Regions from separate parts of the Homo sapiens genome. Here region 2 is linked to region 1. The links come from fine-mapping of genetic effects on gene expression. A gene starts in region 1. The other region holds a variant in brackets. All regions are shown on one strand. Distances are between the middles of the regions.

The links. PIP is the estimated chance that this variant, and not a neighbour inherited with it, causes the effect. A credible set is the group of variants that fine-mapping cannot tell apart.
Region 2: its variant is the best candidate, but not a certain one, in a credible set for the expression of SLC45A3 in tibial artery (GTEx, PIP 0.88).

What each region holds. Positions count from the first base shown.
Region 1 is chr1:205,677,950-205,682,459 of GRCh38, reverse strand. It overlaps SLC45A3 (solute carrier family 45 member 3), which reads left to right and starts at 1,951. Exons shown (of 5, transcript NM_033102.3): 1 at 1,951-2,066. LOC105371701 (a long non-coding RNA gene) reads right to left here and starts at 2,090. Exons shown (of 4, transcript XR_007066825.1): 1 at 1,961-2,090. RefSeq lists a silencer at 2,187-2,406, a cis regulatory region at 4,080 and an enhancer at 3,996-4,165.
Region 2 is chr1:205,564,025-205,568,281 of GRCh38, reverse strand. All of the region lies in intron 1 of SLC60A1-AS1 (SLC60A1 antisense RNA 1), which reads left to right. It also overlaps the pseudogene RNU2-19P. Among named protein-coding and RNA genes, the nearest start is that of SLC60A1, 2.9 kb to the left of the region's middle. The variant A/G (reference allele first, on the strand shown) is at 1,777.

The DNA of each region.
Region 1 (4,510 bases):
ACTATTATTATTATTATTATTATTATTTTGAGACGGAGTCTCGTTCTGTCGCCCAGGCTGGAGTGCAGTGGCACCATCTCGGCTCACTGCAAGCTCCGCCTCCCGGGTTCGCGCCATTCTCCTGTCTCAGCCTCCGGAGTAGCTGGGACCACAGGTGCCTGCCACCACGCCTGGCTACTTTTTTGTGTTTTTAGTAGAGGCAGGGGTTCATCGTGTTAGCCAGGATGGTCTTGATCTCCTGACCTCGTGATCCGCCCGCCTCGGCCTCCCAAAGTGCTGGGATTACAGGCGTGAGCCACTGCGCCTGGCCAACTATTATTATTATAACATGAGGCTACATCAGCAGAAAGAGGGGGATTTTCAGAGCAGAGAGCCCTACTGTACCCTGTATTGGGTGGGGCCTGGCCAGTGCATCCACCTGGTTTAGTTGGGAAGGGGTGATTGGGTAGGGCCCAGGATCACCATGGGATCCAGGCTGTGTGCTCACTCCCCTGAGCTCTCCTTCCTCATCCCCCTGTCATAAGGCATAAAGCACAAGGGCCCCTGGAAAGAAGTGGTGGGAGGCAGGAGGAAGAGGGGGGCTCTTACTTGTCTGTGGTGCGACAACTCTCTCATGTTCCCAGTGTTCTTTCCCAAGCCTGCAAAATACCACCGTCCACTCTCTCCTGGCTCTGTAATTTTCCAGCTGACCTGAAATTTCCCCTGACTCCTGACCTCTTTCCTGGAGGAGAGGGGACACCAGCTCAGAGACCCTGGACTCCACCCTAGTCTCTCTGCTTGCCACGAGAGGGTATGCCAAAGACTTTGGAAAGCCATCTCCAGGAGGGTCCCCAGGTAGAGGTGTGTCTGCTCCAGGGAGGCAACGCTGAGACAGTTTTCAAGTTAAACTTGTTTAGTGACTCAGAAGGTAGATTCTTGATTTTTCTCTTCTCAACTCTCTCTGGCACCTGCTCTCTGTTCCCCACTACCACCAGGGCGCCACTATTTCCTCTCCCTTCTCTATCTCCCTTTCTTCTCTGCCTCCTTCTACCTCTCAGCTGGAAGGTGCCCTTAGAAATCATTTGGCTCACCCCCTCTTACAGAGGCCCAGAACATGGAAGGGACTTGGCCCACGTTATACGGCTGTTGACACAGGGCCAGCATTGGAACCCAGTGCCCCAGTGCCTGGTTGGCTAAGGCCAACCAGGTCTTCCCCTTCGAAGGCATCTTCCTGGGACTTTGTAGTATTCAAGTCAACAATCCAACTAAATTGGATTTCTCTCCACCCAATAAAACTCCATGGAGGAAAAAAAGACAAAACTGCCCCCCAACCCCCAACCCCAGGGCCAGCCTGGGACTCCATCAAAGACATTCTGGAACAGGTATCTGTTCGGACCTTGCTCAACAGCTGACAAAGAGAACATTTCATTGGCAATTTATCATCCATTCTTCCCCGTACACACTCTTAAGAAGAAAAAAAATTGGAATTTGGTTTTCAGCGCAGAAAGAGGGATTGAGTTAGCTCTGTCTGCGTCGGAGAATAGCAAAGAGCAGAAGGGTAATTCGGAGAGAATGTGACATCTCCTTTGAAGGGATGGTCCTGGACAGGTAGGGAGCAGCTCTGCCTGGAGATCGGGTGGCCAGAATGGCACGCCTGGGTAATGGTCGCAGCAGACTGGCTCCGAGTAGGGGAGGGGAGGTGCCCCGCGAAGCCGGGTAGCTTTCACCTAAATGTTTGGTGGCGAGCGACAGAGGGGGCGGTGCCCTGCCCTAGGTAATGATAGGGCAGTCTGGGAGCCACGCGGGGGCTGCCCGTCGCGGCGCGGCTACAAAGCCAGCTTCGAGACCTCCCGCTTTCTTCCCCTGGGTACCAGCCCCACCCCTCTATCCCCCCTCGCAGCACCCCCCACCTCCGTCCCGCCTCGCCCCGCCCCCCTCCTGGCAGTCCCAGCGCGCATGCTCTCTCCCCCCGCGGAGTAACCTGGAGATTTAAAAGCCGCCGGCTGGCGCGCGTGGGGGGCAAGGAAGGGGGGGCGGAACCAGCCTGCACGCGCTGGCTCCGGGTGACAGCCGCGCGCCTCGGCCAGGTAGGAGCGCGCCCCCTCCTCTCCCAGGGGTGAGGGTCCCGGCGCGGGAAAGGGAGCAGCAGTGCACGGCCGAGCTCCGCGCTGTCGCGTGTTTTGCGCCCCGCGGGATGGGGCTGCGCCGTGGCCGTCCGGGGCGCTGCGCGCCGAGCCCCGCGCGAATCCCAGAGGAGGGCGCGTCCCACACGCTCTGCCGGGGCGGGTGCCGAGTGCCCGGCGCCTGCACGGGTCCCCGCTGAGCTGTGCTTTCTTCCGCGGAGGGCGGGCAGGCAGGAGGTGCCCGCGCTGTCCCAGGCGGGGCGGCGGTGTGGGCGGGGAGCGGCCCCTCCCCGGAGCCCCGGGCCGGGCCGGACCGGGCCGGGCCGACGGCTGGCGGACCGGCCGCTGGCTCCTGTTGCAGCCTCCCGTGTCAGACTTTTCTTTGGAAAGTTGCGTTTATTTTCTTCTCTTGTCTGGGCTTCACCGGAAAGGGGCAGGATGAGTCACTGCGGCGCGCACAGTCCGGGACTTGGGGGAGCCGGGACGGGAGCCGACGGCCGCGGCGCCGCGGGGTGCTCAGGCCCAGGCCGGCTTTCTTGAGGAAGAGTGAGTTATTAAGACAGGGAAAGGGGACTGAGCCCTCTTGGACTTAGAACTGGGGCGAGCTCTGGGTACAGAGTTGGGACTGGACCGTGTGTGTGTGTGTGTGTGTGTGTGTGTGTGTGTGTGTGTTACTGTGTCCCCTTTTCAGCCTCAGTTTCCCCCTCTGTGGGGAGAGAAAGGCCGCTGTTTTCTCCTCGCCTCCCAGGTCTCAGGTGGGGAAGGACAGAGTTCTGCAAACGGCAAACAGGTGTGATGTGGTGGTACCTAGGCATCCCGTGCAGCTTCTCAGAGCTCTGGGCCTAGGCAGGCTTGCTAGAAAAGCCCCAGGGACCTGCATGCTTTCTCCCTAGTGCGGGTCAGGCCTTCCTGTAGTCTTCCGCTCCCCCCAGGCACTGCAGTCCTGTGAGTTGCTCTTGCCCTTGACCTCTGAATCAGCCTCCATCTTCCTGACAGACACTCTTGACCTGCTCAGCTTTTCCCCACTCCAGGGCGTGTTCCCTATGCTTCCTCTTTTTCCAAGGGGCCAGAGTTGGGGGTAGGGAGGGGTTTGGCATGGTGGGTACCTGGTGAGGACTCGCCCTTCAGCTGTTACACAGACCCGGTCCCGGTGGAGCAGGGACTAAGAATAGCCCAGCTGCTGTCTTGCTGCCCTGGAGTCTGCAGCCGGGCATTGCCAGTTGACCAGGGCCCGCAGTGACCCTTGCTGGGGTCCTGGAACCTTTGCTCAGGGGTGGGGTTGAGGTCCTAGGGGCTTCGGACTACCTTTCCTGAGGCACTTAGCAGATCTCCTTTCAGAGCAGAGACCGCCTTGGTGTAGACTCACCTGCCCGAGGCCTGGGAAACAGGCTGGCCTATTGGGGTGGGAGTGGGAGGGCCCAGGAGGCCCAGGCTAGACGGGAAGCCTGAGGAAACCCATAGAGCAGCATATTGTAGGGGATAAGTGGGACGCAATTTGAGGTCGCAGGCCATTCTGTTGGATCAGTCCCATTCCCTCATTCCTCCCTTATCTCCTCCCACCAGGCCTGTCGTGGAGCCAGGACTCTGTTGTTCTGAAAGTGCTCAGAAAATGCAGCTTGAGTCAGCAGAATGAGTTTGAAGATAAAAATACAGCTGTGGATGAATGTACAGCTGTGGACAGACAGGCCCCAATTTAGTGGGTGTGTGTTAGGGGGAGTTTTCCTATGTATTCATGGAGTGTGTGGTGAACTTCCCCATCCCTCCTGGCTCCCTGAATAACGTTGAAGGAGGAGGAGGAGTAGACAGTGATCCCTGGTGGTCTCCTGAGCCCATTCCAGGCCACTGGGTGGTGGAGGGATAGTGGAGGCCTCTCTCCAGCTCTCCCCTTACCCAGACTGGAGCTCTCAGCCTGGGCAGGGCTGGTCTGAAGATTCAAAGTAAAGTTAACTTGAAGACTTTAAGTACTATCATCTGGACGTCACAGCCTGATAAGTCAACATGGATAAAAACCCAGACTGTCAGAAAGATAGTTTCTTTTTTTAGACGAAGTTTCACTCTTGTTGCCCAGGCTGGAGTGCAATGTCACGATCTCAGCTCACTGCAGCCTCCGCCTCCTGGGTTCAAGTGATTCTCCTCCCTCAGCCTCCCAAGTAGCTGGGATTACAGGCACCCACCACCATGCCTGGCTAATTTTTGTATTTTTAGTAGATACAGGGTTTTACCATGTTGGCCAGGCTTGTCTTGAACTCCTGACCTCAGGTGATCCACCCGCCTCAGCCTCCCAAAGTGCTGGGATTACAGGTGTGAGCCACCGCACCCGGCCAGAAAGAAAGTTTCTATATTGGCTGCTTCACTAGGTGAGCTCCACCAGCTTGGCAAGTTACATAACCTCGTCCAAGCCTCAGTAT
Region 2 (4,257 bases), 110 kb after region 1:
GGAGGAGGGCAGAGAGGGAAGGGCCGCGTCCTGGAGGAACCCCGGGAGGAATTCTGAAATAATCTCCTAGAAAAAAAAATTTAAAAAGAGTTCTGGGGAAAATTCTTTCTTCCATGGATAAATCCCTGGCAGTGAGTAGGGGTTGATTATTCTCTAGACTGGGTGTCCTTCGAGGAGCCTGCAGCTGACCTAGGCTGTCCCTTCATTAGGTGGCCTCGGGCTGGCTGGTGGGTTCTGTGTGTTCCCGCTCCTAAGGGAGCCAGGATCTGGCCCCTGGAGGCAGAACAGTAAGGCCCTGCGGTGTCCCCTCTGCCCAGGTCTTCTGGTAATGACAGGAGCCATGACATCATTTCCACTGGCCCACCAGGGGGACCAGGGCTGAAAAGACTGAGGAGGTATGTGGGCGGGTGTCCCCAAGACAACTTGGCATGAGGTGGGGCAACCAATTTCTCTTGCAGGTACTGGTCCCATCTCATAGCCGCACCCCTGCATCTGCCCTATCCCTTCTTGGACAGTGAGCCCCAGAGAAGGGGGAGCCCCAGGGTCCCTCTGGCTCATCACTCTGTGGGTAATGACAAGTACTTATTCGATAGTGATGATGGGGGGCCTGCACAGTAATTGTAATAAACTGAAAAGCTACCCTCTGGGGGAAAAAAAAAGAAAAAACACCAAACAAATCATAACCACAAGTTTTTGACTGAGTCTTCTCTGCCACTATCACAGAACTCCAGGAACCATAGAAGCTCAGAATTGGAAGGAATAGCCTCCAATTGAGTCCCCTATCCCCTCCCCATAACTGCCTTTGAATGCTTGCCAGTCCTGTTCTTGACTGACACCTCTAGTGCTGGGGACCTTGCATATTCCTAGGGGCTCTGCTTGCAGTGTGGATGAGCTCTGGTTGTAGAAATGGTCTTAGGCAAAATTGAAATGCTTCGCCCTGTAACTGCTCCCCACGGCCCCACACAGAACAAATCTAATTGCTCTGTCATGTAAGTCCTTCACACCCAAAATGACCTTGCCCTAATGATTTTGCTTCTCTAGCCCAAACACCTGAAATCCTTCCATAATTTCCCTAAATGGCGTTCCCCAACTACAGCACCTTGCTGGCTCAGCTCCTCTAGCCACAGTAACAAATGACCCTGCCACAATGAGGTAGCCCCCAGTGCCTGGGATGCTGGAAGCATTCTGAAGCTTGATCTAGGTGGTAGTTACACAGGTGTAAATATATGTAAAAACTTATTGGTCTGTAGATTTAAGATTTGTGCATTTTTGTGTGTAAGTTATACTTGATTAAAATGGTAAAAAGTAAAAATAAAAAGTAAGTAAAAATAAAGGGAGGCATTCCACCGTGAATACAGTACTCAGCCTCTTCATAGTCAAAGACCTATTGGGTTCTGGTACTGTACAAGGTCCTCTGGTTGAGATAAGCAGATATGGAAACAAGTTACAGTTGTCTCTCCATATCCCATATCCCGTGGGGGGATTGGTTCCAGGAGTGCCTGCAGATACCAATATCTGATAAGAACAGATACTACACTTGGTCTTGCCAAAAGGCTGAGAAACGATAGATACCAATATCTGAAGGTGCTCAAGTCCCTGATATAAAATGGCATAGTATTTGCATATAACCTACATCCATAGGCCTGTATACTTTAAATCATCTCTGGATTACTTATAATACCTAATACACTGTAAATGCTATGTAAATAGTTGTTATACTGTATTGTTTAGGGAATAACGACAAGAAAAAAGTCTGTACATGTTCAGTACAGATGA[A/G]TTTTTTTCCCAAATATTTTCGATTTGCAGTTGGTTGAATTTACAAATGCAGAACCCACAGAGACAGGGGGCCAACTGTGCAGCAGTGAGGTACCTTCTGTAATGGGGTGGTTTGAGGGCCTGGAGAGCTAAGTGTCTAATTCTGCCTGGGAAGGCTTCATGGAAGAGGTGACTTTTGAGTGGGGTCTGAAAGCCAAGTCTATATGTGAAAACGTTTTGCTTATTTTTGCTTTCTTCATCCCTTTCTCTGTCCCTTCTGTTTTCCAGCATCACACACTGTCCACCTCCTCTAGGCATCTTTCCCAGATGAATTAATTCTATTAAATTCTTATTTCCAGCAAGACTCTCATCCACTCCTGTACTGCTACCCTATCTTCACAAGGCCAGGTATTACATTCCACGGACTGTTCCTCCAGCCCCTTACGGGAGCCAGTTAAATCATGAGTTCCTAAGGGCTGGGAGTATATTTACCTGTGTTCTAACTCCACCCCTTCTCATGTGCCTCACATAAAAGAATGCCTTGCAGATAGCAAGTCCTGGACAAATAGCTGGTGAGGTGAATTGTTTGCACAAAAATTATACAATTACTTTTGGCTTTACATTTACATGTCTTATCTCCCACTTACAAGTTCCCCAAGGGCAGACGCTATCCAGTCTTTCCTTTGTGCTGTGTATTCACATGTCTGTTCTTAGTTGGGCACCTTGTGGTTATTCTTAAATTTGAAGGGCAAAACCTTGGATCCTTCTTTAACTACTCTCTGATTTCCCCCCTTATAAATTAGAAGGGAATTATCCCCCACCGTCACAAGCCAAGGAAAGTGATCTGAGACTCCCAAATATGGAAAGGTTACATTAATTGGAATAAAGGATCTGTGGGAGTAAAGGGTTCTCAAGCTCTTGGAGCCTGAAATCTATTAATTGCCTCAAGGGTTGGCTCTCCAGAAGCCTTTTTCTGACCTTCCTAGGCTCCCTCCTTGGGGCTCCCAAACTATCCTAGTGCTGATTCTGTTTAGTGCCGCCCTTCCAAGGCAAGGACCACAGGATTGGTTCATCACTGGGTGCCTGGATTTCTGACTCCTTGGTGAGAGGTGTTTATACTACACTGAACTCTTGTGTTTTTTTTTTTTTTTTGAGACGGAGTCTTGCTCTCTTGCCCAGGCTGGAGTGCAGTGGCATCATCTTGGCTCACTGCAAGCTCCGCCTCCCGGGTTCACGTCATTCTCTTGCCTCAGCCTGCCGAGTAGCTGGGACTACAGGCACCCACCACCACGCTCGGCTAATTTTTTTTGTAGTTTTAGTAGAGACGGGGTTTCACTATGTTAGCCAGGATGGTCTCGATCTCCTGACCTCATGATCTGCCCACCTCGACCTCCCAAAGTGCTGGGATTACAGGCGTGAGCCACCACACCCGGCCTTTTATTTATTCATTTATTATTATTATTATTATTATTATTATTATTATTATTATTATTTGAGATGGAATGTAGCTCTGTCACCCAGGCTGGAGTGCAATGGCGCAATCTCAGCTCACTGCAACCTCTGCCTCCCAGTTTAAAGTGATTCTCTTGCCTCAGCCTTCCAAGTAGCTGGGATTACAGGTGCACGCCACCACACCTGGCTAATTTTTGTATTTTTAGTACAGACAGGGTTTCACCATGTTGGCCCATGGTGATCTGCCCATCTCAGCCTCCTACAGTGCTGGGATTACAGGCGTGAGCCACTGCACTCAGCTGAACTCCTATGCTTTATACCTGGAAGTTGAGAAGCAATAAATCACCTGCAGATCTTGGACCATCTGTAGGTAATCTATGTCATGGAAACACACAGAAGAAAGTAAACGAACAATGAAATAAGAGTTAGATACCCTTACCACTATCCTTTTACATGCATTACAGCTGCAGAAATTCCTTAGTGTATAAACCCATGTTGTGTATTTTGTTTTTGTTACTGTTTCTGTTAGAACTGAAAACCTTAAATATTTAAATGAGATATAAAGAGAAGAGGCCTGATTCTCACCAGCCTAGTGGGGAGTCACTGGGACTTGGGCTTGATTTCATGCTTAGCAGGATCCTCTTAGTGACCTGGGGCTGCCCTCTGTCCCCAGGGCCTTCTGGTCTCTGCTTCCAGATTCTGCAGAGGCCAGGCAGGAGCAGTAGAGTGAAGTCTCCAGCTCAAGGTCATTAAGCACATCCTGCAGTTAGTCTGGCCATTCTGGGTCATGAAGCCACCCCTCCCCTATCTCCAGATTTTGTCTTGTCACTCCCTGTGTGGTTGTTTTGCTGGCCAGAGTGTGGCGGTGGATTGGAAGGCTCTGTCTGAGGTTGGCATGGGGCGGATGGCAGATAGTTTGGTGCCAAGGACTATACCTGGATGGCCCAGCCATCCTAAGGCACATGAATGCAAATACAGCAGAGGCGGGTGTGTGTACAAAGAGCCTCCTTTACCAAATATCCGGTTGAGCTACTTAGTGCTAGCCTGCCT